Homo sapiens: one gene and its partners. The protein of the gene in region 4 binds, or shares a complex with, the protein of the main gene of each other region. Each region holds a gene or a part of one and is shown on either strand. Other genes may lie near its edges.

The links.
Region 1: TXNL4A (region 4) and PRPF4 share a complex: the UniProt entries of both Homo sapiens proteins name them as parts of the precatalytic spliceosome.
Region 2: TXNL4A (region 4) and PPIH share a complex: the UniProt entries of both Homo sapiens proteins name them as parts of the U4/U6-U5 tri-snRNP complex.
Region 3: TXNL4A (region 4) and USP39 share a complex: the UniProt entries of both Homo sapiens proteins name them as parts of the U4/U6-U5 tri-snRNP complex.

Annotation. Positions count from the first base shown.
Region 1 is NC_000009.12:113,271,047-113,278,660, reverse strand, and holds the start of PRPF4 (U4/U6 small nuclear ribonucleoprotein Prp4), read right to left. Parts: upstream 3,004-7,614; 5' UTR 2,918-3,003; coding exon 2,891-2,917; intron 2,117-2,890; coding exon of another isoform or gene 2,114-2,116; coding exon 1,936-2,113; intron 1-1,935. Other genes in the region: anaphase-promoting complex subunit CDC26, read left to right, coding at 6,154-6,234. UniProt on the Homo sapiens protein: Plays a role in pre-mRNA splicing as component of the U4/U6-U5 tri-snRNP complex that is involved in spliceosome assembly, and as component of the precatalytic spliceosome (spliceosome B complex).
Region 2 is NC_000001.11:42,668,422-42,675,445, reverse strand, and holds part of PPIH (peptidyl-prolyl cis-trans isomerase H), read right to left. Parts: intron 159-7,024; exon of another isoform or gene 1-158. UniProt on the Homo sapiens protein: PPIase that catalyzes the cis-trans isomerization of proline imidic peptide bonds in oligopeptides and may therefore assist protein folding. Participates in pre-mRNA splicing.
Region 3 is NC_000002.12:85,612,038-85,619,188, reverse strand, and holds the start of USP39 (ubiquitin carboxyl-terminal hydrolase 39), read right to left. Parts: upstream 3,004-7,151; 5' UTR 2,994-3,003; coding exon 2,726-2,993; intron 1-2,725.
Region 4 is NC_000018.10:79,978,541-79,985,564, reverse strand, and holds part of TXNL4A (thioredoxin-like protein 4A), read left to right. Parts: intron 1-7,024. UniProt on the Homo sapiens protein: Plays a role in pre-mRNA splicing as component of the U5 snRNP and U4/U6-U5 tri-snRNP complexes that are involved in spliceosome assembly, and as component of the precatalytic spliceosome (spliceosome B complex).

The DNA of each region.
Region 1 (7,614 bases), on a different chromosome or scaffold from region 4:
ATCTTTTGCAAATGAGTTAACTAGGCTGTCTATCCAGAAGATGTAACAGAAACATTATTGTAACAACAGCCAAAGCTATTTATTCTCGAAAGGAGACCCAGTATAGGGATACTTAACAAATCATTAACTACTAAACTGCAAATAATTACCAGGAAAATGAGAGTTCCACAACTATAAGGATTTCTGGATAATCTAGCAATAGTTTTGAAACCCACACCAAAATACAAGTGTGATAAAAAATGAGAGGTACAGTGGTGACGTTATGTTTAAAAACAGTATTAAAAGTTTAAAAAGTCACTAGGCTACAGTGCATGTGTTTAGAAAATGTGTGGGAGGATCAATAAGAAACCTGACAGATGTCCCTACTGCAGAGGAGTCTTCATTTTATGCCCTTTGGCATTGTCTGAATTTCTTAGGACAAATATGCATAATTTTATTTTTAAAATATAGTAGACCTCTCATTACTGACATGGAAAGATATCCTCAATGGTATATAAATGAAAAATGGGGGTTATACAACAATTTACGTATTGTGTTTTCATTTATGGAAAAAATTACATACTTTTTAGCTGTATTAAAATTCTCAGAAAGATATACAATCAATTAATTTTAAAAATACAGGATTTTCTACTTCACACATTTATACATTGATCTTTTAAAAGAAAATAACTTTTTTTTTTGAGACAGGGTCTCGCTCTGTTGTTCAGGCTGGAGTGCAGTGGCACAGTCATGACTCACTGCAGCCTTGAACCCCCACCTCAGAACCCCAATTAGCTGGGAATACAGGCACGTGTCACCATGCCCAGCTAATTTTCTACTTTTTGTAGAGATGGGGTATCACTATTTGCCCAGGCTGGTCTTGGATTCCTGGGCTCAAGCCAGACTCCCGCTTCTCAGCCTCCCAAAGTGCTGGGATTACAGGTGTGAGCCACCAGGCTTGGCCACTATTACTTTTATAATAAAAAAAGATAGCTCAGTCAGGTGCAGTGGCTCACGCCTGTAATCCCAGCACTTTGGGAGGCCGAGGTGGGCGGATCATTTGAGGTCAGGAGTTGGAGACCAGCCTGGGCAACATGGTGAAACCCAGTCTCTACTAAAAATACAAAAATTAGCTGGGTGTGGTGGCGGGCACCTGTAATCTCAGCTAATCGGGAGGCTGAGGCAGGAGAATCCCTTGAACACAAAAGGCAGAGGTTGCAGTGAGCCAAGGTTACGCCACTGCATTCCAGCCTGGGCAAGAGAGTGAGACCCTGTCACACACACACACACACACAAAAAGATTTCACTTTGGGTAAAAAATAATTACAAAACTTCAAAAGGGAGAATATCATGAACCACTCTAGCTGCAAACCAATGCCAGAACTATGTTAGATCTCCAGAAGACAAATGGAATCAATCTGAATCCAAATGTACACTGAATTTTTGATAAGACTGCTCACTCATAGAAGAAAAACTATATAACAGATTGTAAGAAAAAGGCTCTCTGCATGATAATAAGGGGGTAGGCAAAATACAGCCTTATAGCTGCAAGTTTAAGAATTGAAATTCTGCCGGGCACAGTGGCTCACACCTGTAATCCCAGCACTTTAGGAGGACGAGGCGGGCGGATCACAAGGTCAGGAGTTTGAGACCAGCCAGACCAACATGGTGAAACCCCATATCTACTAAATATACAAAAATTAGCCGGGCGTGGTGGTGTGCGCCTGTAATCCCAGCTACTCGGGAGGCTGAAGCAGGAGAACTGCTTGAACCCGGGAGGCGGAGGTTGCAGTGAGCCAAGATCGCACCACTGCACTCCAGCCTGGCGACAGAGCGAGACTCTGTTTAAAAAAAAAAAAATTGTAATTTTTTGACATTATAAAACTGTGGTATTTAAGTTTAGAAAGGTATTCATTACACAAAGAGGTAAAGATGGGCTCACAATTTGCATCTTACCAGAGGTTATATTAATATTTCCAGCTTCGATCCCTGCTTTAAGTCCGTCTTTCCCCAAAATCCCAGACTCTCCTTTGGCCAGACGCTCCCTCTCCTTCTCTTCCAAACTTCCATAATAGATGTGTGGTTTCTTCACGACCGGAGCAACTAAGTCGTCGGGTGCTTTAGTTTTGGTTGCCTGCTAAATCAAAGATCTGCATTAAACTAAGGTTTAATCTTGGCAATTTACCGGACTTCACCAGAGGATGAAGCTCACCCTGAGTTTCACAGTCCTGTTTCCTCTGTAATTGAAAGGACAAATTGGACACTACTTAAGACGCTCTTCATTGATTTGAGGAGGTGAAGGTAGGGTGAGGGTGTTTCAGTCCCTCACTTTGGTTGATGGGATTAATAAAACTAGTGAGGTTCTCTCGGGTATTTTCCTATGAAAGGTTTGCTCTGAAATCTGTTTACTTCATTCCGTTGGAAGTGTTCAATCTCGTGTTTTATGCTTCCCGGATTACTGCTTATCACTGGGGAAATACTAAGGATAGATGAAATAACCAACGCGGTGCTAAAGGATAACAAGTTACAACATTACAAGTGTATACATTTCAAACGTTCCTAGACGTGAGGTAGTAGGAGTTAGTAGGTCTCATTAAAATTCTGAGATCTGCCAAAGGCATAAACCTTGGCCAAGACACTTCCCTATTTCAGAGCACCGTTACTGGATGAGTCGGAAGAGATGCTTGCCCTTTGGGGCTGTAGTGGGAGAGGTGCAAATAAGCTACAGTCCACGAAAGCGCTTAGGGATCAGGAAAACGGTGGTCCGCTGTGTAGGACACCGCTGAGTCCCGCAGCCTTCCTCCTCAGCCCTCCACCGCCTTCTCCCGCTCCTTAACGGCCCCTTCCCGCAGAGATCCCCTTCCCCCTTAGCGCTCCCTGCCAGAGTGAGCTGGGATCCCGGGCTCTGTACCGTGGAAGAGGCTCGCGAGGAAGCCATGCTGGGCTCTGGAGCCGCGAGGCCCCAGCGAAACCCGAACACTCCCTTTCAGACCGTCCACCGCGCGCCCAGCAGAGGGGAAGTGCGTCACTGACAGGAAGTGCGTCACTGACAAGACGTGGGCCAAGAGGGGTCACCGCCCCCGGAGCGGCGCGGAGCATGATGGAAGTCGTAGTAGGAAATGGCGTCGTGGCATTGAGGGGCATCCCTCCTAGAACCTCCAGGAAAAGCTCGCGGAAGACGAGGTTCTGCGGAGAGAGAGGCTCCAAGCAGTCTGGGAAGTGTAGTCCAGTTGGCTTAGCAGTAGTTTCGTTGGGGGGGAGCCGAGGTTCCGGGAAGGGGCTAGGCCGGCTTGAAAAGAGGTAGGTGAGTCGACTCGCGCGGCTCGGGGCTGAACTCTGGAGCGAGTCAAGGGCTTCCGGGGTCCGCTGTGCCCCCCGGGCGTACGGGGGCGTTTACGTCTTCTTGGAGCCGAGGACCATGTTACCATAGAAACCCTTGCCTGGGCTCCGAGGTACAGGCCTGGAGCTAGGGGACGAGGACTGTTCTCCTCCATGGTCCGGAAGTCTTCCCAGGCTCCCCCTCTGAGCTTGATGGCTCGGCGGTGGATTTGGGCTGCGGCGGGAGATTAAGCTAGAAGAGCCCGCTAGTGCCAAAGTCAAATAAAGACCCGGCGGAGGAGCTTCGGCCTGATTTTGTTGATTTGTCTTCAGCCTGGTCTTTGTATCAGATTGAGAGTAAGATGATGGATAGGAAGGTGTCAGGTAACTCTGTACGTCTCTCTGCCCTGCTGGATGCTGGGGCATTAGAGACGAACAGGATAAGGTTTTTATCCCCACATGGGCGGTGGGAGATCCTCAAAATATTGACGTTTCCCTAGCTGGCCAGATCCTCATGCAACCCCCTAGAACAATTACAGCAATAATAGATGTTATTTATTGAACATTTATTAAATGCCAAATAATATTCCAAGAGCTTACTCTGTATTACGTTATTGACTTCCTACAACAGCAGAGTAGGATACAGATGAGGGAACTAAGGTCTAGTGAGAAATGAAACGAATTGTTCAGGATCGGTGGTGTAGTGGGATTAAAACCTGTGCCCTTTAACCTCTACAGCCAGCACTTTTAACTGTTAATCTATACTGCTCCCTAGTGGCCAGTTTTTTGCAGTTTGCAGAAAAGGTAAAATGTATAGATTTTTTTTTCCCCCTTTTAGGTATCCCTATCCCTCTCTTTCCCTCTTTGGAACTTTGGCTTTCTCTACCATTTGTCTGCATTGGAATCTGGTAGAAGATAATGCCTGATTTAGTACAAAGGAATTTGAAATGTAATGTGCCAGTGTTTTGTGTTGATAATATCACCTGTAGTATCCTAAGCTTCATGGGAGAAGGAACTATTTCTTCCTTTGTATACTTCACAGTCCTTAGTTTCATCCTAGATACGTGTAATAATTTGTATCTGTACATACTTTCAAGGAGTTTTCACTTCCATCATTTTCACTTAATGCTTATCATGTTGACCTTTATAATTTTTATAGGAGGCTAAAATTATTAACCAAACTGAACAGCTTGCTTCGATGACTTCTTTATGTGTGAAATAGGAATCATTTTGTCAACTTCACAGGGTTTTTGTGTTAAAATAAGAATGTAAAGAATGGGAATGGAAAAACAGCACGGTGCTCAAGAATGATCTCACCTTCTAGTCAACAAACATTTACTGACTGTTTTTATAGATACACTCTAGGGGATGCTGTGGAGAATATACAAATGATGCCATCAACAGATATTAAACTCAGTTGGGGGGTTGTGTTTTCTCAAAAACAAAACAAAACAAAATGGTTTTTGTTAACATAGTATTACCTTGGGATTTCAGGCTGTGGAATGCTCTCTTGAGCCTTTTTTTTTTTTTTTTTTTTTTTTTGAGTTGGGGTCTCATGGTGAGGTCATGGCTCACGGTGGCAACCTGAAACTCCTGGGCTCAAGTGATCCTTCCACCTCAGCCTCCTGAGTAGCTAGGACTACAGGTACACACTACCAGCCCAGCTATTTTTTTTACTTTTTTGTAGAGACAGGGTCTTGCTACGTTACCAAAGCTGTACTTGAGCCTCCTTGTGCATTCTTCTCTCTGCCTGACCTTCAGAAGTCAACTAAGACATCATTTTCTCCAGGAAGGCTTGCCTGACATCCTTGTCCACCCCACACTCAGCCCAGACTGGATTAGGTGCCTGTGTGATGCCAGTGCTAGTATCCTCATCAGGGTTCTCATTACATGATATCACAGTTTTCTCTTTGTTTTCCCCACAGATTATGACTGTACCTTTTAACTTTGTAGCTGGAACACAAGAAGTGTTTGTTTAATGAATGACGTACACATTTAAGATCTGTTTGGACGCGGAGGATAATCCTGTGAATTGGTGAGTTGGAGTTTTCCTGAGATTTAGCAAACTGATTTTAGCATTCAAGAGTGATCACAAATCTCTGACAATTCTCATGTAGGGTAGATTAAATTCACTGGTTTGTCCACTTTTTCCTCTAACTATACTAAGATGTGATAGTTTATTCTTTTAGCTAGAGTAGTTCTTTGAATGTGACTGGAACATGAGATTAAAGTGATGGTTGCCTAGAATTTCTCTCTTATAGGCAGTTTGCTATTTTAAATTCTTACAGAAAGAGTTTTTGATTTTATAGAGCTGTAGATCTCCATAATGTAACAAAAATGTAATAATCACATACCTAAAGACTTTAGAAGTTGGCTGGGTACAGTAGCTCTTGCCTATAATGCCAGCACTTTGGGAAAATGAGGAGGGAGGAACACTTGAGCCCAAGAGTTTGAGACCAGCCTGGGCATCAGAGAGAGATCCCATTTCTACAAAAAACACAAAAATTAGCCAGGTATGGCGGTGTACGCCTGTAGTCCCAGCTACTCTGGAGGCTGAGGCAGTAAGATTGCTTGAGTCCAGGAAGTTGAGGCTGTAGTGAGCTAAGGTCATGCCACTGCACTCCAGCCTGGGCAAAGAGCAAGATCCTATCTCTTAAAAAAAAAAAAAAAAAGACTTTAGAAGTCTATGTGTAAATTCAAATAAATTTTTAATATTTCCATTCACTTTAGTATACATGCTTGCAAATTGATTTTATGTTTTGTATCTGAGACTTTATCACCTTCAGATTTTCCTCCTCTCTTTCATTTTTAACAGCTAATAGTTCACTGGGTTTGGCCCTTAGTGTTGACTTCAGTATGCTGAGACGGAAACCAACACGCCTAGAGCTAAAGCTTGATGACATTGAAGAGTTTGAGAACATTCGAAAGGACCTGGAGGTATGAATACAACTTTGTGTTTTTTTGAGATGGAGTCTCGCTCTGTCACACAGGCTGGAGTACAGTGGCATGATCTTGGCCCACTGCAACCTCTGCCTCCTCTGCCTCAGCCTCCCGCGTGCTGGGACCACAGGTTCATGCCAGCACGCCCAGCTCATTTTTTTATTTTTAGTAGAGTTGGGGTTTTGCCATGTTGGGGCCAGGCTAGTCTCAACTCCTGACCTCAAGTGATCCATCCACCTCAGCCTCCCAAAGTGCTGGGATTACACGCGTGAGCCACTGCACCCAGCCATGAATACAACTTTCAAAGCTTAAGGAATATTTAAGATAATAATTCTTGTGTGGGCACAGTGGCTTACATCTGTAATGCCAGCATTTTCTGGCCAGGAGTTTGAGACCAGCCTGGGCAACATAGTGAGACCTTGTCTCTATGTTGGGCAGGGTGGCGCATGCCTGAGCTACTCAGGAGGCGGAGGCGGGAGGATTGCTTGAGCCCAGGAGTTTGAGGTTACAGTGTGCTATGATGGCTCCACTGTACTCCACACTGGGCAACAGTGAGACTCTCTGTCATACATAAATATGTATATACACACACATACATACACAATAACTTTAACTTCTGAACTGCAGACTCTTAAGCCAACAGCTTATTTGAAATCTCTGTTTGGATGCTTTACAGGCATCTCAAACTTCATGTATGTCTCCTGTGGCTGCTGTAACAAAGTACCACAAACTTCATCGCTTAAGACAACAGAAATTTATTATTTCACAGTTTTATAGGCCAAAAATTAGTATTGCTGGGCTGAAATTTAGGTGTCAGGAGGGCCACATTCCCTATGGAGGATCTAGGGAAGAATCCATTCCTTGGCTCTTCTAGCTTCTGGTGGCTGCTGGCATTCCTTGACTCATGACTGTATCACTCCAGTCTCTGCCTCCAGAGTCATATTGTCTTCTTTTCTGTCTGTGAAAACTTCCTCTGCCTCCTTCTTATGATATGTGTGATTGTGTTTAGGGCCCACCTGACTAACCCAGGATAATCCCCCCTTCTCAAGATCCTTAATTTAGTCACACCTGCAAAGGCCCTTTTCCCATATAAGGCATTTATAGGTTCCAGGATTAGGACCTGCTAGCTTTGGGGGCCATTTTTCAGCCTACTACACTTAACATGTTAAAAAAAGAAGAGAGAAAAACTCTTGATTTCTCCCTTGAACCAGTCGTCCCTTCCATTCTTCCCCAGTGTTTCCCATCTCAGTATTGATTCAGTTCCTCAGGCCAGAAACCTAGCAGTCATTCCTGAGTCCTCCCTTTCTCTTACGCTTTATATTCGATCTGTCTGTAGACCCTTTGATTCTACCTTCAGAATATGTCTGGAATCCACCC
Region 2 (7,024 bases), on a different chromosome or scaffold from region 4:
TTTGTGATACAGTATATTAAATGCCACAGTGGAGAGATGAACCAAGTGCTGTGGGAGCACCCACTGTCTGGGCTTAGACCTGGAAGAGGAGGTGGAGGGATCAGCAATGGATTCACACCTGATGTTAGCCACAGCTGTGGGCAGGCTCCTGGGAAGTGCTGGGAGGATTTAGGATTAGTTAACACTACATATAAACAGTATGTATTTCTATTACAAGATACATGTTCAAGGTAGAAAATTCAAGCTTAAATAAGGCAACTGAAAAGTCTCTTTGCTATCTCTACTCTGCAGAAGTATTATCCACAGTCTGCTATATATCACTGCAGAGATTCCTGAAAGTCATTCAAAATAAACAGTAACATGCTTACATAAATTACTACATCTTGACTGTCACTTAACTTACCTTAGAAATCTTGCCAACACATCCAGATCTACCTCTTTATTTTGTTAAGGCTGTATAGTATTCCACTGAAGAGAATGGAACCTCTACGTGTGTAAGACTTGGCTGCAATGCAAGCAGCTTTGCCTTTGTACTGGACTGGAATGGACTGGAGCCAGACATTCTCTCCACTCCTGGCCTTTTCAGCTGGCAGAGCTTCTGAGTTTCAGGACAGGGAACATACAGTGTCACATGCCCAGCAGGCACATAAATATTTGCTGCCAAATCTCCAGTGTTCCCCAGACCCATATTTTCATGTAAAACCTCTTTTCTCTTGCCTGGACTACTACTGCAGTAGACTCCTCACTGGCCTCCAGCCCATCCTCCACAATGCTGCTAGAATCATCTTCTGAACATGAAAATTCATCTACAGTATTCTGCTGAAAATCCTTAAGTGGTTCATATTGGCCTGATTCTTTTTTGGAGGGTCAGTGCCCCTTTTGAGAATCTCAGGAGCACAGTGGACTCCTTCCCCAAAAGGGAAAAATTACTTCATGCCTGAAAGTCAGCCTCTGCCCTCAGAATAACATATGAACTGCTAAACTTGGCACTGGCTTTCACTACTGGCCCTGGCCTCTCTCCAACCTTCTCACCATTTGCTTTTCATATCTTCCTGCTTCAGTCATATTGAATTATTTGCAGCTTCCTCTACACTTCCTGCTGTTTCCTGCCTTTGTGACTTTGCATAGGCTGTTCCCTCTGCCTGGAATGCCCTGCCCAGTTTTAGCCACCTGACAAGTTATATTCTTTCTTGTACTAAACTGAAGCATCATCTCTTCTGTAGTCTACTCAACCACTCTGGGAAGATCCGGGCATTTATGCTTTCCTCACCTTGTTCTAAAACCTCCAATACAGGGCTTTATTGTACTGTAATTGTCAGTTCTCCCAAGAGACTGAGTTCCTTGAAGGATGGAACTGACTTTTCAAATCTGTAGCCTCATATGCAGCATGGGAACTATCTTAATTCATCAGCGCTTAGTTGTGGAATGAATAGAGGACCAGCCCAACTGCCACCAACACATATTTCCTAATCTTCCCCTACGGGAATGTCTCGCATCTATAGGTAATTCTAGAATGAAACACAGTGTTTCCTAAACCTTAGTCATTCAAATAGCATCTTCACAACTGTTACAATATCTATCATCCACAGGTACAATTTATTTTTTAAGCTAATCACTATTTGAACTTCAATATTGCCTCACTATAAGCTGTAATAACTGTAAAATGATGTATTGTGCTAATTCCGTATTTTTTCCTAAGATCCAAATATTAAAATAAAAGACAGTCATCCCACCACTAACTAAAGTAGTGTTTCCCACACTTCTCTATTAAGAAGCATGTGAGATACTTGTTACAAACATAACATCCTGGTCCCACCCCAAAGCCACTCAATCAAATACTCCAGGGAAGGGATCTAGGAATTCGTAGGTTTAACGAGTGCCCCAAAATGATTATTACCTGTTGGAGAATCTAGGCAACAATGAATTAAGGAAAGCTCTCTACCATTTGGTACTGGTACCAGGTTTGAGGATCACAGGGAAGAGGGTAAGCATATCAGACTAGCAGAGCTGCCAGAACTCGGGCTTTCAAAAGAGAGGTGCCACCCTCTCCCATGTCCATGTAAGTAGCAAACAACCCATTCAGACTACAGCAGGAGAATCCTGAGTGTAGAGGTTCATTTATGCTATACATAACCAAATTCATCATAAAAAGTTTTCCAAGGGCTGGGCACGGTGGTTCATGCCTGTAATTCCAGCACTTTGGGAGGCTGAGGTGGGAAGATCGCTTGAAGCCAGGAGTTTGAGACCGGCCTGGACAACATGGTGAAACCCCATCTCTAAAAAGTTAGCTGGGTGTGGTGCTGCACGCCTATAATCCCACCTACTAAGGAGGCTGAGGTGGGAGGAACACTTGAGCCAGGGAGGTCGAGGCTGCAGTGAGCTGTGACTGCGCCACTGCACTCCAGCCTGGGTGACAGAGTAAGACCCTGTCTAAAAAAAAAAACTCTCCCAGAACTCACTGAGATAAAACCAAGGTTTCTATAACTAAAGTTGTACAGACCAGGCATGGTGGCTCACGCCTGTAATCCCAGTACTTTGGGAAGTCAAGGCGGGCAGATCACATGAGATCAGGAGTTTGAGACGAGCCTGGCTAACTTGGTGAAACCCTGTCTCTACTAAAAATACAAAAAAATTAGCCAGACGTGGTGGAGCATGCCTGTGATCCCTGCTATTCGGGAGGCTGAGGCATGAGAATCGCTTGAACCTGGGAGGCGGAGGTTGCAGTGAGCTGAGATCGTGCCACTGCACTCCAGCCTGGGCAACGGAGTGAGATTCTGTCTTAAAAAAAAAAAAAATTGTACACAAAACTTCATTTTCACTAAAACCAAAGTCAGAACCTAGGAAGGCAAAACACAAAGGTTCTGGAAAGAAGTGCTCCATAGGGAGGTAGAATTGATCAAGTGACCCGTCTTCTATCTCCTTCTTAGCTGTTTCACTGCATATGTCCAGTGCCTGGGCACAAGGCCTCAAATGCAGGATTAGGTGATACCTTGATGTGAATGCAATGGATTCCTGCTGGACTAGTGCCACCAAGAGAGTACTTCCTCTTGGTCTTTTTTTTTTTGGAATATGGCAAGTTCTCAATTAAAAGATAGACTCTTATCCCCTATTGACTTGCCTCACAGTCTGCATCAGCATCACCTGAGAGCTGATTAGAAATGCAAAATCTCAGTCCCCATCCAAACCCACTGAGTCAGAACCACTATTTTATAACAAATCTCCTGGAGATCCGTATGAACGTTAAAGTATAAGAAATACTGCCCGGCCAGGCATGGTGGCTTATGCCTGTAATCCCAGCACTTTGGGAGTCCGAGGCGGATGGATCATGAGGTCAGGAGTTTGAGACCAGCCTGGCCAAGATGGTGAAACCCTGTCTCTACTAAAAAATACAAAAATTAGCTGGGTGCGGTGGTGGGCACCTGTAATCCCAGCTACTCGGGAGGCTGAGGCAGGAGAATTGCTTGAACCTGGGAGGCAGAGTCTGCAGTGAGCCGAGATCGCGCCACTGCACTCTAGCCTGGGCGACAGAGCAAGACTCCGTCTCGAAAAAAAAAAAAAAAGAAAGAAAGAAATACTGCCCAATAGGGCTTAAAAATACCACTTCCCTTCCCTCCACACCCCTGCTCCATGGGAAATTCATCTCCTCTTTCATTAATTTTTCTTAAATCACATTATTCAGAAACCCAAAATGGGGTGCCCATCTGTAGAACCCCTTTACATTAGACTGCCACCCAGATTTCCTAACACCTTAAAACCTATGAGGGATTTTTGGTAAAGTGAAATGCGATAATTCAAGTAAAGTTCTTAGCTCATTATCCGGGCACAGGAAGAATTCATTGAAGGATAACTGCTTTAATTATAGTGCCCTTAAGTATTAGCTACGAGATTCAGTTCTAAGCAAGCCAGGGCGAGTAGATTGAGAAGCTTACATTTAAAAGAGTTCACTGTCCAGTACAGTAGCCACTAGCTACAACTGGCTCTTTACATTTATTATTTTTTTATTTACTTATTTATTTTTGAGACAGGGTCTCGCTCTGTCGCCCAGGCTAGAGTGCAATGGCACAATCTTGGCTCACTGAAACCTCTGCCTCTCGGGTTCAAGAGATTCTCGTGCCTTTGTCTCTGGAGTAGCTGGGATTACAGGCGTGTGTCATCACGCCCGGCTAATTTTTGTAATTTTAGTAGAGATGGGTTTTACCATGTCGGCAAGGCTGGTCTCAAACTCCTGGCCTCAAGCGATCCACCTGCTTCGGCCTCCCAAAGTGCTGGGATTACAGGTGTGAGCCACCACATCCAGCCTAATTTAAATTTAATAAACTACAGCTTAGTTCTGTCAATAAAAAAAAAATAGGCTGGGAATGTTTGCTCACGCCTATAATCCCAGCACTTTGGGAGGCCAAGATGAGCAGATTACCTGAGCTTAGGAGTTCAAGACCAGCATGGCTAACACGATGAAACCCCGTCTCTACTAAAAATACAAAAAATAGCCAGGCATGGCAGCGTGCGCCTGTAATCCCAGCTACTCAGGAGGCTGAGGCAGGAGAATTGCTTGAACCCGGGAGGTAGAGGTTGCAGTGAGCCAAGACGGCGCCACTGTGCTCCAGCCTGGGCGACAGAGCGAGACTCCATCTCAAAAAAATAAAAAATAAATAAAAAATAAAAAGTTAACAGTTTAGTCCCTCAGTTGCACCAGCCACATTTTAAGTGTTCCGTTGTCACATGGGGCTGGTAGCAACCATACTGGACCTCCCAGATCTAGAATCTTTCCATCATCACAGCCTATGGACAGTCCTGGTCTAGCGGGCCTGTGGAATGTACAATGGCCACCTGAGGAATGCGTTCTGCTTGGGTTGCAGGCTGAGAAGAAGGGCTTTCTTGGAAGCAAAAGTTCATATAACTTTTGCTAACAGTGGGGGAGAGCGGGGAGGGTTGATGATCCCCACCCTCAGAAATAAAACCTCAACAAGGACTTCCAGTAACTTTATGTAAAAGACTCAAAAAGATACAGAAAAGAGGCCCCAACATTAAGAATTTCTAAACTTTATTCTTTTTGTTATCGTTTGTCCTCTGGTAGTGATCAGTGGTCAGTCTTTGAAAAGAAAGGACCTATGAACTCAACTTTAGTTACAGCAAAGAAATGAGTAGGAGACGGAGGGAATGGCCAGCAGCCATTGAAGAGGGAGAGCAGGCTGGGCCCAAGGGGGACCCAGTATTGGCAGAAAGGAAAGCTCAGGGTGTCAAGTGGGCCTGAGAAGGGATCATCTGGCTGAACAAGAGAGGTCCACATGTAGCTCTCAGCACACACTTGTGCATTCCAGCCTCAGCATTTGCTCACACGAGTTCCCCGCCTAAAATGCCTGACATTCTCCCTCTCTACTTAACTCATGTAATAAATTTTTACTGAATGCCTGTAAGTGCCAGCTTTCTGAACAGAGTTGGTCACAGATAAAGGTGTGTTGTAGAGTCATTAAAATGGTCAGGTATTTGACTGGATCTCCATTTGGAAAAAAAGACAAGAAAAAGTCCTATCTTAACACTATACAGAAAAATTAATTATAGATGATTTTATAAATGTACAAATAAGACTTTAAAAATACTAGAAAAATGATCTTAGCTCCACCATATAAAAAGAAATACTAGAAAAAACACAGAAAACATTGTGATCTGAGGTAGTAAAGACCTTAAATGAGACAAAACTGAAAAGCAGTGAAAGACTGATAATTTGGACTTCATCAAAATTTAGAACTTCTCTTTAACAAAGAATATCACCAAACTTAAGCAACACAATACTAATTTTTTTCTTAAAATATATTCTGAAGAAAACAATTACAACATATAAAATTAAGAACTAATGCTCAGTTGGGGGCAGTGGCTCACGCCTGTAATCCTAGCACTTTAGGAGGCCAAGGTGGGCAGACCACTTGAGGTGGGGACCAGCCTGGCCAACATGATGAAACCCCATCTCTACCAAGAAATATAAAAATTAGCTGGGCGTGGTGGCATGCACCTGTAGTCCTAGCTACTTATAGCTATTGTATAAGGTAATCTTATACAATATTTTTAATACGTTTGTGCATGAAACAGATTTTTGACTATGATCCATCACATGAAGTCAGGTGTGGAATTTTCCACTTCTAATGTCATGTTAGTGCTCAAAAAGCTTCATATTTTGGAGCATTTGGGATTTCGGATTAGGGATGCTCAGCCTGCACTGCAGTTTCGGTTTTTCTTTTCCTTTTTTTTTTTTTTTTGATGTCATCCAGGCTGGAGTACAGTGGTGTGATTATAGCTCACTGCAGCCTCAAACTCCTGGGCTCAAGTAATCCTCCCACCTCAGCCTCCTGAGTAGCTGGGACTACAGGCATGCACCACCACACCTGGCTAATTTTTTTTTTTTTTGGAAAGACGGGATCTCACCAGGTTGCCCAGGCTGGTCTCGAACTCCTGAGCTCAAGCTATCTGCCCTCCTTGGCCTCCCAAAGTGCTGGGATTACAGGAGTGAGCCACCTCCTGCCGGGCTGTTTTCATTTTTTAATACAAGGTGGTTTTACATGAACTAAGAAGGAAAAGTTTTCAAGACATATTTTTTAGAACATGAAAAATATAGTATGATTTCATTTGGGAAAAAGAAAACCTCCCAAAATTAGATGGGCAAGGCAAAGGCCCTGATGGACATACATCAAACTAATAAGGAAGTGACCTTTGGAAAGGGGAGTGGAATTGCAGGTGGGTATTGTCAAGAGGGGCTTTCACTTTATCTGTTTGGTGTGAAAGTTTTCACAATGAGAGTGTATTATGTTACTTGTGTAAACCAAATGAAATGAAATATGGGAACCTTGATTGGATCACCTTTTTTTAAGCTACAAAAGTTACTTTTGGGACAATTGGGGAGGTTTGAAAATGTACTATATATTAGATAATATTGTGGTTACGTAGGATGTTCTTATTTTTAGGAGTTCCTTGCTGAAATACTTAGGGGTAAAGTGTCAAGAAGTCTGCAACTTTCAAATGGGAAAGAGAAGAA
Region 3 (7,151 bases), on a different chromosome or scaffold from region 4:
TGGGAAACCTATACTCAGGGCCAACTAACAGAACAAAAAAAGAAACAGAAATGGGAAAAACTAATCAAGATGAGTTCCTATTGTTTGGGTGGCAACAATATCGAAAAAAAAGTCCACTAGCCGGGCGCGGTAGCTCATGCCTATAATCCCAGCACTTTGGGAAACCGAGATGGGTGGATCACCTGAGGTCAGGAGTTCAAGACCAGCCTGGCCAACTATGGTGAAACCCCGTCTCTACAAAAAACACAAAAATTAGCCAGGCATGGTGGTGGGTGCCTGTAATCCCAGCTATTCAGGAAGTTGAGGCAGGATAATTGCTTGAACCTGGGAGAAGGCGGTTGCAGTGAGCAGAGATCGTACCGCTGCACTCCAGCCTGGGCGACAAGAGCAAAACTCCCTCTCAAAAAAAAAAGAAAAGAAAAAAGCCCACTAATAGAACAAGCCACAAACTGGGAGAATATATTTGGTATACATAAAATCAACAGAAGATTTGTTTGCATTTTACATAAAGAAATCCCATAAAGCATGAAAAATATGAAATATGTCACAAGCACTAAAATAAACTAATTGTAATACAAATGTACCATATAGTTGTGTGTTTCGTTTTTTTTTTGTTTTTTTTTTTTTGAGACGGAGTCTCGCTCTGTCCCCCAGGCTGGAGTGCAATGGCGCGATCTCAGCTCACAGCAACCTCCGCCTCCCGGATTCAAGCAATTCTCCTGCCTCAGCCTCCCGAGTAGCTGGGACTACAGGCACAAGCCACCACACCCAGCTAATTTTCATACTTTTAGAAGAGACGGGGTTTCACCATGTTGGCCAGGCTGGTCTCGAACTCCTGACCTTGCGATCCACCCTCCTTGGCCTCCCAAAGTGCTGGGATTACAGGCGTGAGCCACTGCGCCCGGCCACAAATGTACTACGTAGTTTAAAGAGTGGCTGGGTGAGTGGCTCATGCCTGTAATCCCAGCACTCTGGGAGGCAGAGGCAGGCGGCTCACCTGAGGTCAGGAGTTCAAGGCCAGCCTGACCAATATAATAAAACCCCATCTCTACTAAAAAATACAAAAATTAGCCGGGCATGGTGGCATGCACGTGTAATCCCAGCCTACTTGGGAGGCTGAGACAGGAGAATTGCTTGAACCTGGGAGGCAGAGGTTGCAGTGAGCTGAGATCGTGCCATTGCACTCCAGCCTGGACAACAAGAGTGAAACTGTCTCAAAAAAAAAAAAAAGAATGTACATGTGTATCTATAAATCTACCACTTGTCAAAAACTTGAGTGGGTCTCAGATCTTACCCTACTCGCAAGCTAACAAGTTAGCCTGTCACAGTTTTATGAATGCTGATGGAAAGCATGTGACTACCTGGCCTGAAATAAAGGACAGTTTATTAGAGCAATGACAGTAGCCGGAATATAGCATTGGTGTCAGTTTTCCAAGTGAATTCCCACAAGGCAAAGTGAGGAGAACCCATGCACACAGTGAGCTGCCTTACAGGAGACGAACCCCGTGCTTAGAGAATCTGAACCATTAACCATTTTTTCAAACGAGGTCTCGCTCTGTTGCCTATCCTAGTCTTGAACTCTACCTCATCCTATAGAGTAGCTGCGATTACAGGTGTGAGCCACCACACCCTGCCCCAAATCTTTTATAAGGGATTGTGCCCTTGTCTCCTCGTTTTGTAGGGAGACACCATTTCTATCTTCCAAGGCTGCTCACTACACGAACATCCTTAACGAGAGTCCAGGAGAAAAGGCAGTCAGGCAATGGTCGCAGTACGTGCACAAACTCAAGAGACTAATGGAAAATTGTCTCCAGACTTTATTCAGCTTAAAAAGTGCTACATAATCCATACTTTAGTAGAGGTGCCTATTGCTCAAGCATTCTGAATATCTTGATTACAGAAATTACAAGACCTTAGATGTAAAAACTGAAGGAAAGCCGTGCACGGTGGCTCACGCCTGTAAACCCAGCACTTTGGGAGGCCGAGGTGAGTGGAACACTTGAGTCCAGGAGTTCGAGACCAGCCTAGGCAACATAGCGAGACTTGCTTCTCTTAAAACGCAAAAAAAAAAAAAAAAATTCTTTTTTAAAATGGAAGGAAGTAACACTTGTAAAATCAGCACTGAGCCCCCACATCGGGCATTCGATAAAGGGAAGCTGCTGTTGTTACGATTTTTGCAGTTAGAAATACCATACGTTTGGCCGGGCACGGTGGTTCACGCCTGTAATCCCAGCACTTTGGGAGGCCGAGGCGGGCGGATCACGAAGTCAGGAGATCGAGACCATCCTGGCTAACACGATGAAACCCCCTTCTCTACTAAAAACACAAAAAATTAGCCGGGCGTGGTGGCGGGAGCGGTGGTGGGCGCCTGTAATCCCAGCTACCTGGGAGGCGGAGGTAGGAGAATCGTTTGAACCGGGGAGGCAGAGGTTGCAGTGAGCCGAGATCGCGCCACTGCACTCCATCCTGGGTGACAGAATGAGACTCCATCTCAAAAAAAAAAAAAAAAAGAAAAAAGAAATACTATACGATTATTGAGAAGGGTACTGTCTTCATCAGAACAAGTCGAACAGCAGAATCGTCGAGTCTGGATCCCTCCTCTTCTCCACCCCAACCCCACCCCTCCCCCAACTCCGGCGCAGTGACCTAGCGGAAGATTAGAGACAAGAAAAAAGGACGCGAAAAAAACAGGCTCTCGCGCCTAGCCCGGCCCGGCCCCGCGCACCTCGCACCTCCCGCTCAGGCTCCGAGTCCTCATCGACCTCGCGCTCCCGCTTCACCCGCACAAACGGGACAACAGAAGCCGGGGCCTCGCGCGCGCTCGCCGGCTCGAACTCCCGCTTCACGCGCACAGGGCTGCCCCGGGAGCTCGCCGCCTCAGGCTCCCGCTCCCGATCTCGCTCCCGCTTGACGCGACCGGAGCTGCCCCGCGACTCAGACTCTCGCTTCCCGCGAGTGGAACCGCGAGACTCCCGCTTAGACCGGCCGGACATCTCCACTACCGGCCGAGTCGTCCAGCGCAGGCGCCAAGCACGCTCGAGCGCGCGGCACAAGGCCAATCAGGAGAGGGGCTGGTAGCGAGCCCCGAACTCTCTACGAGTCGCCACTGGGGACAAATCACGCTGCAGAAAATTTGTGGGCGGTGCTGTTCCTGCACTGGCTTCCTCTCCCCTTAGAACCTTCTGTGGGCCTACTGTCGTTTACAGTTTACTGAGACGGGAACCTTTACTGGCGACAGTTTTCTGGATAAAAGCTGTCAGGCCGGGCGCGGTGGCTTACGCCTGTAATCCCAGCACTTTGGGAGGCCGAGGCGGGTGGATCACCTGAGGTCGGGAGTTCGAGACCAACCTGACCAACATGGAGAAACCCCGTCTCTACTAAAAATACAAAATTAGCCCGGCATTGTGGCGCATGCCTGTAATCCCAGCTACTCGGGAGGCTAAGGCAGGAGAATCGCTTGAACCCAGGAGGCGGAGGTTGCGGTGAGCCGAGATCGCGCCATTGCACTCCAGCCTGGGCAACGAGCGAAACTCCGTCTCAAAAACAAAGAAGCTGTCATTCGGCCCCAGATTTGTGCCTCGAAACCACCACCGTGAGGTCGTTTCCCACAGTCTCCGCGGCTTGGGGGCTGACAATCCTGCACAGGAAAACTAGGCGACATTCCCAAATCATCCCCTTGACAGCCCTAATTCTACTTTTAGAAGGTTCTTGGTACCATGAAAACGCAAATGCCCGGTAAAGGCAGATTTACCATGAAGCTAATAAAGCTCTAACCTCAGGACCTGCCTTGAACTTGTTTGCTTGTTTGAACCGTTCCATTGAGGTATAATTGACATACAACAAACTACATGTTTAAAGTGTGCAATTTAGGCCAGGCGCTGTGGCTCATGCCTATAATACCAGCACTTTGGGAGGCCAAGGCGGGCGGATCACCTGAGGTCAGGACTGGAGACCAGCCTGGCCAATATGGTGAAACCCCATCTCTACTAAAAATACAAAAATTAGCCGGGCGTGGTGGCACGAGCCTGTTAACCCAGCTACTTAGGAGGCTGAGGCAGGAGAATCGCTTGAACCCGGGAGGCGGAGGTTGCAATGAGCCGAGATCGCCCCATTGCACTCCAGCCTGGGCAACCAGAGTGAAACTCTGTCATACCCACACCACACCACACCACACCACACCACACCACACCACACCACACCACACCACACTGTGTGCAATTTACTGAATTCTGACTTGCGGTATATGTCAGAGGCGTTTCAACCAGACCAACTCCATCTTGAGTGAGGGTTAGGAAAATGAGGCTGGGCCTTGACAGGCTGCATTCCCAGGAAGTTAGGTATTCCTAGCCTAGAGATGTCTACAGTTAAGGGAACAGAGAGATAATGTTTACTAAACAGATCCAGACTTGGGAGTGTCCTAATATCCCAATATCTGGAGAATAAAGGCATTCCTAATTTTGCTTTAAAGATAATATTTCTTCTTGCAAAATATAATAATAAAATTAATCCTTTATCACAAACCCTTGTAGCAGAGCACATCTCCCCATGATCTTTTTATCCTATATATAAACAAGCATTGTAGCCATGGTGGATGCGTTCCTCCTTTTACTTTCAGGAACGCCCTATTCTGTCAATGGAGTAGCTGTACTTTCACTACTTTACATTTTATTTTTTTGATACAGAGTCTTGCTCTGTCACCCAGGTTGGAGTGCATTGGTGAGATCTCGGCTCACTGCAACTTCTGCCTCCTGGGTTCAAGTGATTATCCTGCCTCAGACTCCTGAGTAGCTGGGATTACATGCACCTGCCACCATGCCCGGCTAATTTTTGTATTTTTAGTAGGCACAGAGTTTCACCATGTTGGCCAGGCTGGTATGGAAGTGCTGACCTCAAGTGATCCGCCCGCCTCCCCTTCCAAAGTGCAGGGATTACAGGCATAAGCCGCGACACCTGGCTACTTTACTTTCTTAATAAACTTGCTTTTACTTTGCACTGTGGACTCACCCTGAATTCTTTCTTGCACAAGATCCAAGAACCCTCTGCTGGGGTCTGAATAGGGATCCCTTTCCTGTAACATATACACCCATGAAGCCATCACCACAATCAAGAGACGGGATCTGGGCCCAGTACGGTGGCTCACACTTATAATCCCAGCACTTTGGGAGGCCTGAGGCAGGAGGATCACTTGAGGTCAGGAGTTCAAGACTAGCCTTGGCAACATAGAGAGACCCCCCCCATCTCCACAAAAAAATTTTAAAATTAGCTGGGCATGGTGGCATGCTATTCAGGAGGCTGAGGCAGGAGGATCGTTTGGGCCTGAGAGGTGGAGGCTGCAGTGAGCAGTGATTGCACCACTACAATCCAACCTATGCGACAGTGAGATCCTGCCTCAAAAAAATAAAAAAATAAAAAAAAATTTAAAGAATCTACCCAGCCCCAAAGATATCCTCTTCCTCCCAGAGAACCCCCACAAAAATCAACTGATCTCTCGGTCACTATAGATTAGTTTGCACTTCCTAGAGTCTCATATAAATGGAATCATACAGAGTCCCTGGCCTCTTTCACTGGGCATATTTATTTTATGATCCATCCATGTTGTTGAGCTACAGATCTTCCTTTGGATTGCTCAGTAATATTCCATCGTGTGGCTGGACCACCATTGGTCCCTGTTTTTTGTTTTTGTTTTTTGTTTTTTGATTTGGAGGTTGGACTGCAGTGGCTCGATCTCGGCTGACTGCAACCTCCGCCTCCCGGGTTCAAGCGATTCTCCTGCCTCAGCCTCCCAAGTAGCTGGGATTACAAGCACCGGCCATCAAGCCCAGCTAATTTTTTGTATTTTTTTTTAGTAGAGACGGGGTTTCACCATTTTGGCCAGGCTAGTCTCGAACTCCTGACCTCTTGATCTGCCCGCCTGGGCCTCCCAAAGTGCTGGGATTACAGGCGTGAGCCACCACGCCCGGCTCTTTCTTTCTTTTTTAATGTATTTTTTTCTTGTAGAGACGATGTCTCGCTGTGTTGCCCAGGCTGGTCTCAAATTCCTCCCTCCAGCGATACTCCCACTTCGGCATCCCAAAGTTTTGGAATTACAGACATGAGCCACTGCATCCAGCCGTTTGTCCCTGTCCTAATCATGAATTCCTGATTTTGACTTTTGTAAAAGGACTTGAGAATTTTACACGCTGTGACGTGAACCCAGTGGTCAGAAAAAATAGAAAAAAAAAAAAAAGGGGCCGGGCACGGTGGCTCATGCCTGCAATCCCAACACTTTGGGAGGCCGAGGCAGGCGGATCACCTGAGGTCAGGAGTTCGAGACCAGCCTGGCCAACGTGGTGAAACCTTATCTCTACCAAAAATACAAAACTTAGCCGGGCGTGGTGGCACGCGCATGTAGTCCCAGCTACTCGGGAGGCTGAGGCAGGAGAATCGCTTGAACCCGGGAGGCGGAGGTTGCAGTGAGCCGAAATCACGCCAATGCACTCCAGCCTGAGCGACAGAGTGAGACTCCTTCTCAAAAAGAAAAAAAAAAGGAAAAATAAATAAAAAAGAAAATAATACACCCGTAGGTCCCTCAAAAACCCTGGGTCCTCCCGCGGGGACAGTTAAGCCATCGGCGCCGTGAGCAGGAGGCAAGCCGGGCCAGGAGAGCCTTCGCGGCGCCTGCGGCCTGGGCGCCGCTGTTGCCCTGCCTGAGCACTTCAAGGCCTCACAATCCATTTGAGGTAGGTGCTCTAGGTGTTCCCATTTACTAATGAGGAAACTGAGAAGTGGCAGCGTTACACAGTCAGCCAAAGTCACGCAGATGGCGATGGATTGCACAGCATCCTATTACCAGAAAAAAGATGGGAAGGCACCGCCGTAAGCATCGAGTTGTGTTATAGATGATTTGCATTTTTCTGAAGGTTCTGGTATCAGCTGTAAGCCGAAGTCCTTGTTTCCTATTGATATGTTACGAAAAAACAAACAAAAAAAAACAAAAACAAAAGCCCTCCGTCCGGGGGGTGGAAGTCAAGCATACCCTACTCCACCCGACCCGACCAGACCCGAAAACTCCGTGCGCTGCATCGCTTGGCCAGGCCGGGGCCTCCCAGACCGGAAGTCAGGATGCGGGGCCGGAAGCTGAGCAAGGGGCGGCGCGGAGCTCTGTGGGCGGG
Region 4 (7,024 bases):
AATAAAGTTTTCATCTGGGCACTGTGTCTCACGCCTGTGGTCCCAGCATTTTGGGAGGCCGAGGTGGGTGGTTCCCTTGAGCCCAGGAGTTCGAGAACAGCCCGGGCAACATGGTGAAACCTTGTCTGTACAAAAAATGCAAACATTAGCTAGGCGTTGTGGCATGTGCCTGTGGTCCCAACTACTTGGTAGGCCGAGGTGGGAGGATATGAGTCCAGGAGTTCAAGGCTGTGACAAGCCGTGATCGCGCCACTGCATGCCAGCCTGGGTGACAGAGCGAGACCCTGTCTCAAAAAAAAAAAGTTTTCTATTTAGCAGCTGATTTTATGCAGTTTTGAAGCGAGACAATTTCATGTACGAGCTGTCTTTCCATTTTGTAGGAACACTGTCACAGGAGACAATTTCATGGACCTTTGAGCTGTCTTTCCATTTTGTAGGAACACCATCACAGGAGACAATTTCATGTACCTTTGAGCTATCTTTCCATTTTGTAGGAACACCGTCACAGGAGACAATTTCATGGACCTTTGAGCTGTCTTTCCATTTTGTGGGAACGCCGTCACAGGAGACAATTTCATGTGCCTTTGAGCTGTCTTTCTATTTTGTAGGAACGCTCTCAGAGGGGACAATTTCATGTGCCTTTGAGCTGTCTTTCCATTTTGTAGGAACACTCACAGCAGTGCTTGGGGTTCACTGTTACCTAAATCCCATGATGGGTGAGAAGACTGAATGGGACGTTTATTTTTTGTGTTAAAAAGCCCACGCAAATAGAGTTTAAAATAGTCTCAGTGAGCTGGGCATTGTAGCATGTGCCTGTAACCCCACTACTCAGGAGGCTAAGACAGAGTATGAGCTCAGGAGGTCAAGGCTGCAGTAAGCTATCATCGTGCCGTTGCACTCCACCCTGGGTGATAGAGCGAGACCCCATCTCTAAAAACAAAACAAAAAAATTCCTCAGTAATATTATTGACTCATGATAGTACATTTTTTTTGTTTGTTTGAGACAAGAGTCTTCTTGTGTTGTCCAGGCTAGAGTGCAGTGGCACGATCTTGGCTCACTGCAACCTCAGCCTCCTGAGTAGCTGGGACTACAGGCCTGCACCACCACCACACCCTGCTAATTTTTGTATTTTTGGTAGAGATGTGGTTTTGCCATATTGGCCGGCTGGTCTCAAACTCCTGTCCTCAAGTGAGCCAGTCACCTCAGCCTCCCAAAATTCTGGGATTACAAGTGTGAGCCACCATGCCTGGCCCATGATAGTACATTCTAATAAATTGTGTGTAAGGCAGATATATATTTATGGAACTTCATAGGAGCCATATTAAGGGGTGTATCTTAAGTATCACATTAAGGATCACAGAACGCCTACTGAACCAGTGAGAGTCAACACTCAGCTAGATGAGGAATCTTGTAGAAACAAACAGAATGGATATTTTTGGTGTTTCCTCTGGATTTTTGTCTCTGGAAAAAAAACAGCCTTGTAGCTAGCCACAAGGTATGAGGGGTGATGTTGAGCCGTGGTTGAGGGTGCAGACTCTAGCCACAAGGTATGAGGGGTGGTGTTGAGTGGCGGTTGAGGGTGCAGACTCTAGCCACAAGGTATGAGGAGTGGTGTTGAGCGGCGGTTGAGGGTGCAGACTCTAGCTAGGCTCTTGGCACTTCATAACTGCATGAGCGTTACGAACTTGGCCCCGTGGGTCATCTTACCTGTAAAAAGGGCATACTTGTGCCTCACTCATAGGGTTGTGGTGGGATTAATAAAGGTTTCTAGAGCACTCCTGTCACATGGGCAGTAATGCCACTGTTATTACTGTGATTACTTCTCTCACATTACTAAGTTTGCAAGTTATTGTGAGAGCTGATTAAGGCAAACATTAATTTTAGAAAGTCAAGTTTTTCAGTTTTTTTTATGGCTTTGACATGAATTACCTAAAAATGTAAAAATAAACACTTCAAAAATTTGTTGTGCTAATCAACTGCCCAGAACACTTTTTCCGGAATTTTAGGTGTTTTCTTAGCTGGTTGAGGGACTCCATACAAAAGTGTAGAACAGTGGTTGGTATCATGTGCCAGTTTGGTCATGTGTTTTGCAGAGTTATGTCATTGTAACTTGGCAGGTGGACTTAGAGGCATGCGGAAGAACTGCTGAGCACTTTAATTGCTGACTTGCCTAAAGAAAAAGCATGCTTATGAGGTGTATAGGCAACAGAGTTGGAAAAGATACTTACAATTCAAGGCAATCAAAGAATTTAAAAACAATTTGAGGCCAGCGCCGTGGCTTAAACCTGTAATTCCAGCAGTTTGGGAAGCCGAGGCAGGCGAATCATCTGAGGTCAAGAGTTCGAGACCAGCTTGGCCAACATGTTGAAACCCCATCTCTACTAAAAATACAAAACTTAGCCAGATGTGGTGGTGGGCGCTTGTAATCCCAGCTACTCGGGAGGCTGAGGTGGGAGGATCTCTTGAGGCTGGGAAACAGAGGTTGCAGTGAGCCGAGATCACGCCACTCTGCTCCAGCCTGGGTGACAAAGTGAGATCCCATCTAAAAAAGAAAAGAAAAAGCTGCCTTTGTTGAGGAAGTCACAGGATGACTTGGCAGAGCAGTGTGGCTGCACTCACCCAGCTCCTCCTCCAAGCGCTTGGTTACCGTGGAAATGTCGCCACCAGCAGATGCTGCTGGATGTTTGCTGATGTTTGCCCTCAGCTCATGCTCCTCCAGTCACCCCACAGATGCCATTTCACCAAGAAAATGGGGTGGTGGGAGGCTGGGGAGCTCCCCTCTGCCTGCCTCTTTCAGCCTCTCCTATCTGAACTCCCAAGTCCCACAGTAACTTCCCTCTCTCTCCATAGCCACGGCTTTTGAAAGTTGTCCACACTGAAGTCCTCTGTTCCTCAGTCCTTCAGCCCCTGCAGTGTCCCCGTTCCCATATCGTCCTTTCTGGTAACCTCTCTGGGGCACTCGGCACAGCTCCCCGGAGTCTCCTGCCTTGGTTTCTGAGACTGCCTCCTTGGCATCCCTTTCCTGCCCCCAACTCTACAGTGGGCTTCTGCACTCACTCCCAAGCCTGGCACCTGCCACCCTGGCTGGGATCACTGCTGGATGTAGGTGGCGGCAGTAAGGTAGCTCTCTCCAGCCCAGACTCCATTGTACAGCTCCAGGCCAGTCGCTACCTGGAGGGCCTTTTTCTCTGGATGTCCCTTAGTTTTCTCAAACTCAGTATATACAAAACTGAACTCTTCAATTCCTGCTTTCTTAGAAATAAATACATGGCCCAGAATCCCAAGTGGAAAAGGTCCTCTGTGGGCCAGTCCACCTGCGCATCGGTCCCCACTGTCCTGCACTTCTGCTTCCTTGCCCTGGTGCTGGATCTGAGACCTGGCTGCTGGTCTTGTGTCTTTCTCTTTACACATGGAATTCTCTAAGGACAGATATTTCCCTGCCACCCCGTGACCACACTGCCGCCCCGTCTCCTGTGGGTTAGGCTGATTCTGTCATCCAGAGTTCAGGCTTTGGAGCCAGACAGAGTGCATCTCAGCTCTGCCCCTTCCCCGTGCGGCTGGGCATCACTCACGTGACCTTTCTGAGCCTGAATTCCATCACCTAAAACATCGGCGACATCTATTTAGAGGTGTTGAAAGAATTAGAATCCATGAGTGAAAAGTGCCTCATACATGGTGGATTCTCAAGTGTTCATGAAACTGGTCTGTGGTGAAATCAGAGGATGTTCACGTTCTCGTGGCACGTGAGCTTTATGTGGTAGTTTGCCTCTGTTAGAATTCTCCGGGTTAGATGCAGTGGGCCGGAGCTTGAAGGCAAAAGGAGAGTCACATTTGTATCTTTAAAGTTACAGTTACTCAGTTGCCCTCTGATTATTGTTGTTGTTGTTAGTTTGAGAAGGAGTCTCGCTTTGTCCTTCAGGCTGGAGTGCAGTGGCACGGTCTCAGCTCACTGCAATCTCCACATCCTGGGTTCAGGTGATTCTCCTGCCTCAGCCTCCCAAGTAGCTGGGATTACAGGCGTGCACCGCCACACCCAGCTAATTTTTGTGTTTTTAGTAGAGACAGGGTTGCACCACGTTGGCCAGGTTGGTCTCGAACTCCTGACCTCAAGTGATCCGCCCGCCTCAGCCTCCCAAAGTGCTGGGATTACAGGCGTGAGCCACCTCACCTGGCCCTGCACTCTGTTTATTAAATGCCTACAAATTATTAAAAACCACAGATGCTTATAATATTTACTATTTTTTACGTGCAAGAAAAGGGATGGTAAAAATTTGTTGTGACCTTTCTTTTTTCTTAAGTACACAATTTACAACCCTGTCCAAATGATATTTCAAGTAATTTATTATTTGCATGGTGATTCCGTAAGTTAATATGATGTTACTGGTATTTATTGTATCTGTCCCTGAGCAAGGCATTGAAGGGAGAATAATGAAATATTATTTTGACTTTCCTAATGCCTGTGACCATTTATTTTGTTGGTGTATTTATTTTAGCTTCTGTAGGGAAGTATTTTGTGTTTAAGTCAAATCAAAAGACAGTTTATTAGTTTACCATGAAAATAAAGCTGGATTCTGGCAACCTGACCAACACATTCTCACTGTGGACGCTGCGGGAAACTAGAGTTTCAGAAATGGGCGTTGTCAGAGTGACCGGACTCAGAGGGGCCCATGTCTAATGCAAACATCACTTTGGGGTTTTGAAAGCACATGGACGGGGAGTCGCATGCCCCTGCAGTGGGCCGTGTGCTCACTTTGGGGTTTTGAAAGCACATGGATGGCGAGTTGCATGCTCCTGCAGTGGGCCGTGTGCTCACCTTGGGGTTTTGAAAGCACATGGATGGCGAGGCGCACGCTCCTGCAGTGGGCCCTGTGCTGGAGTTCTGATACGGTTTTTTTCACCAAAGCTGAAGGGCAGTGGAGTCTTTGTGAAGTGTGGGCTTTCCCCCTCCCCCTCTCCCCACCCTGCTCCATGGTTTACATTTCCATCTTAATTTTTAAAAAATATTTCCCAAAGTAGAGAATATAGTGAACCCGTCTGTTCCTATTGTTCCACTTCAACAATTGCTGGTATTTTGCTGGTCTTGTGTTACCTAACCCCTCATTTTTTTAGGCTGTGTGTTTCATGGAAATCCCAGATATAATTATTTCACCTGTAAGTTACAGTCAGGTTGTAAAGATTTAGTTTTATATGAAGAAATGTTGTGCATATCCCATTGATTTCCCGTGACTGCTGTGAGAGGATGCTGCAAGCTGAGGGGCTTAAAACAACAGAAACTTCTCTCACAATTCTGGATACCAGAAGTCCAGAATCGAGGTGTTTTCCAGGCTGGGCTCTCTCTGAAACCTGCCAAGGAGAGTCCTCATGCTTCTCCCAGCTTCTGGTGCTGCCAGCAGCCTCTTGGAGCTCCTAGGCTTGTAGACGCCTCTGCAGTCCTCGATGCCCCCAGAGCCTCCTGTCCCTGTGTCTTTATGTGGCCATTTTCCTCTAAGGACACCAGTCACACCAGATTAGGGGCCCACCTACTCCAGTATGACCTCATCTTACCTTAACTGATTACGCCTGCAGTACCGTTTCCAAATAAGCTGCGCTGTCACTTTGGGGGTTTAGGACTTCAACTGTTTTGGGGACACAGTTTAACTCATAACACATGTAAGTGGCTACAAGCTTCTAAAGGGCATTGAGTTAGTATTTATAAAGAGCCTTTAAAATGTCATATCCTTTGTTCCAGAATTTTAGGAATTTGTCTTTAGGAAATAATGAAGTATGTATACAAATTTAAGGGGGAAAATGTTCACAGATGAATAATATTAATGAACAATCAGAGAGTAACAGAAGAATGGTGTAGGAGGCTCTTCTCGCATTGCTATAAAGAAATACATGAGACCGGGTAACTTATGAGAAAAGAAGTTTAATTGGCTCACAGTTCTGCAGGCTGTACAGGAAGTGTGGTACTGGCATTTGCTTCTGGGGAGGCCTCAGGACCTTCCAATCATGGCAGAAGGCAAAGGGGAACAGGCACGTCGCACGGTGAAAGCTGGGGCGGAGTGTCACACACTTGGAACAACCTCAGCTCACTACCCCGAGGACAGCACCAAGAGGATGACGCTCAACCATTGATGAGAAATTCATCCCATGATCCAGTCGCCTCCCACCAGGCCTCACCTGCAACGCTGGGAGTTACGTTTCAACCTGAGATTTGGGCAGGGACAAATATCCAAACTATATCAAATGGTAAAGTAATGGCATAGCCATTTGATGAATCACGCAGCCATAGAAGTTTGCCATTTTTGGAAAGTAGGTAATGTATGTAAAAGAATGCTCTTAATTGGCCGGCGCTGTGGCTCACGCCTGTAATCCCAGCACTTTGGGAGGCCGAGGTGGGTGGATCACCTGAGGTCAGGAGTTCGAGATCAGCCTGGCCAATATGGTGAAACCTCGTCTCTACTAAAAATACAAAAATTAGCCAGACGTGGTGGCACACACCTGTAATCCCAGCTACACGAGAGTTTGAGGCTGGAGAATAGCTTGAACCTGGGAGGTGGAGGTTGCAGTGAGCCAAGATCATGCAACTGCACTCCAGACCAGGCGACAGATCGAGACTCCGTCTCAAAAAAAAGAAAAAAAAAAGAATGCTCAAAATTAAAGCAGCATACAAAATATTGTAGTACGATCACAATATGACCATATTTTGCTATGTCTGAACAGAAATAATATGAACAAATTAAAAAATATATATCTATAAGAAAGGGGAAAGAATATAGTAAAAATATTGCCAGGCGTGGTGGCTCATGCCTGTAATCGCAGCACTTTGGGAGGCCAAGGCAGGCGTATCACTTGAGTCCAGGAGTTCAAGACTAGCCTGGGCAACATGGCAAAACCCTGTCTCTACAAAAAATACAAAAATTAGCCAGGTGTGATGGTACGTGCCTGTAGTCCCGGCTGCTTGGGAGGCGGAGATGGGAGGATCGCTTGAGCCCAGGAGGCAGAGGTTGCAGTGAGCCAAGATCTTGCCACTGCACTCCA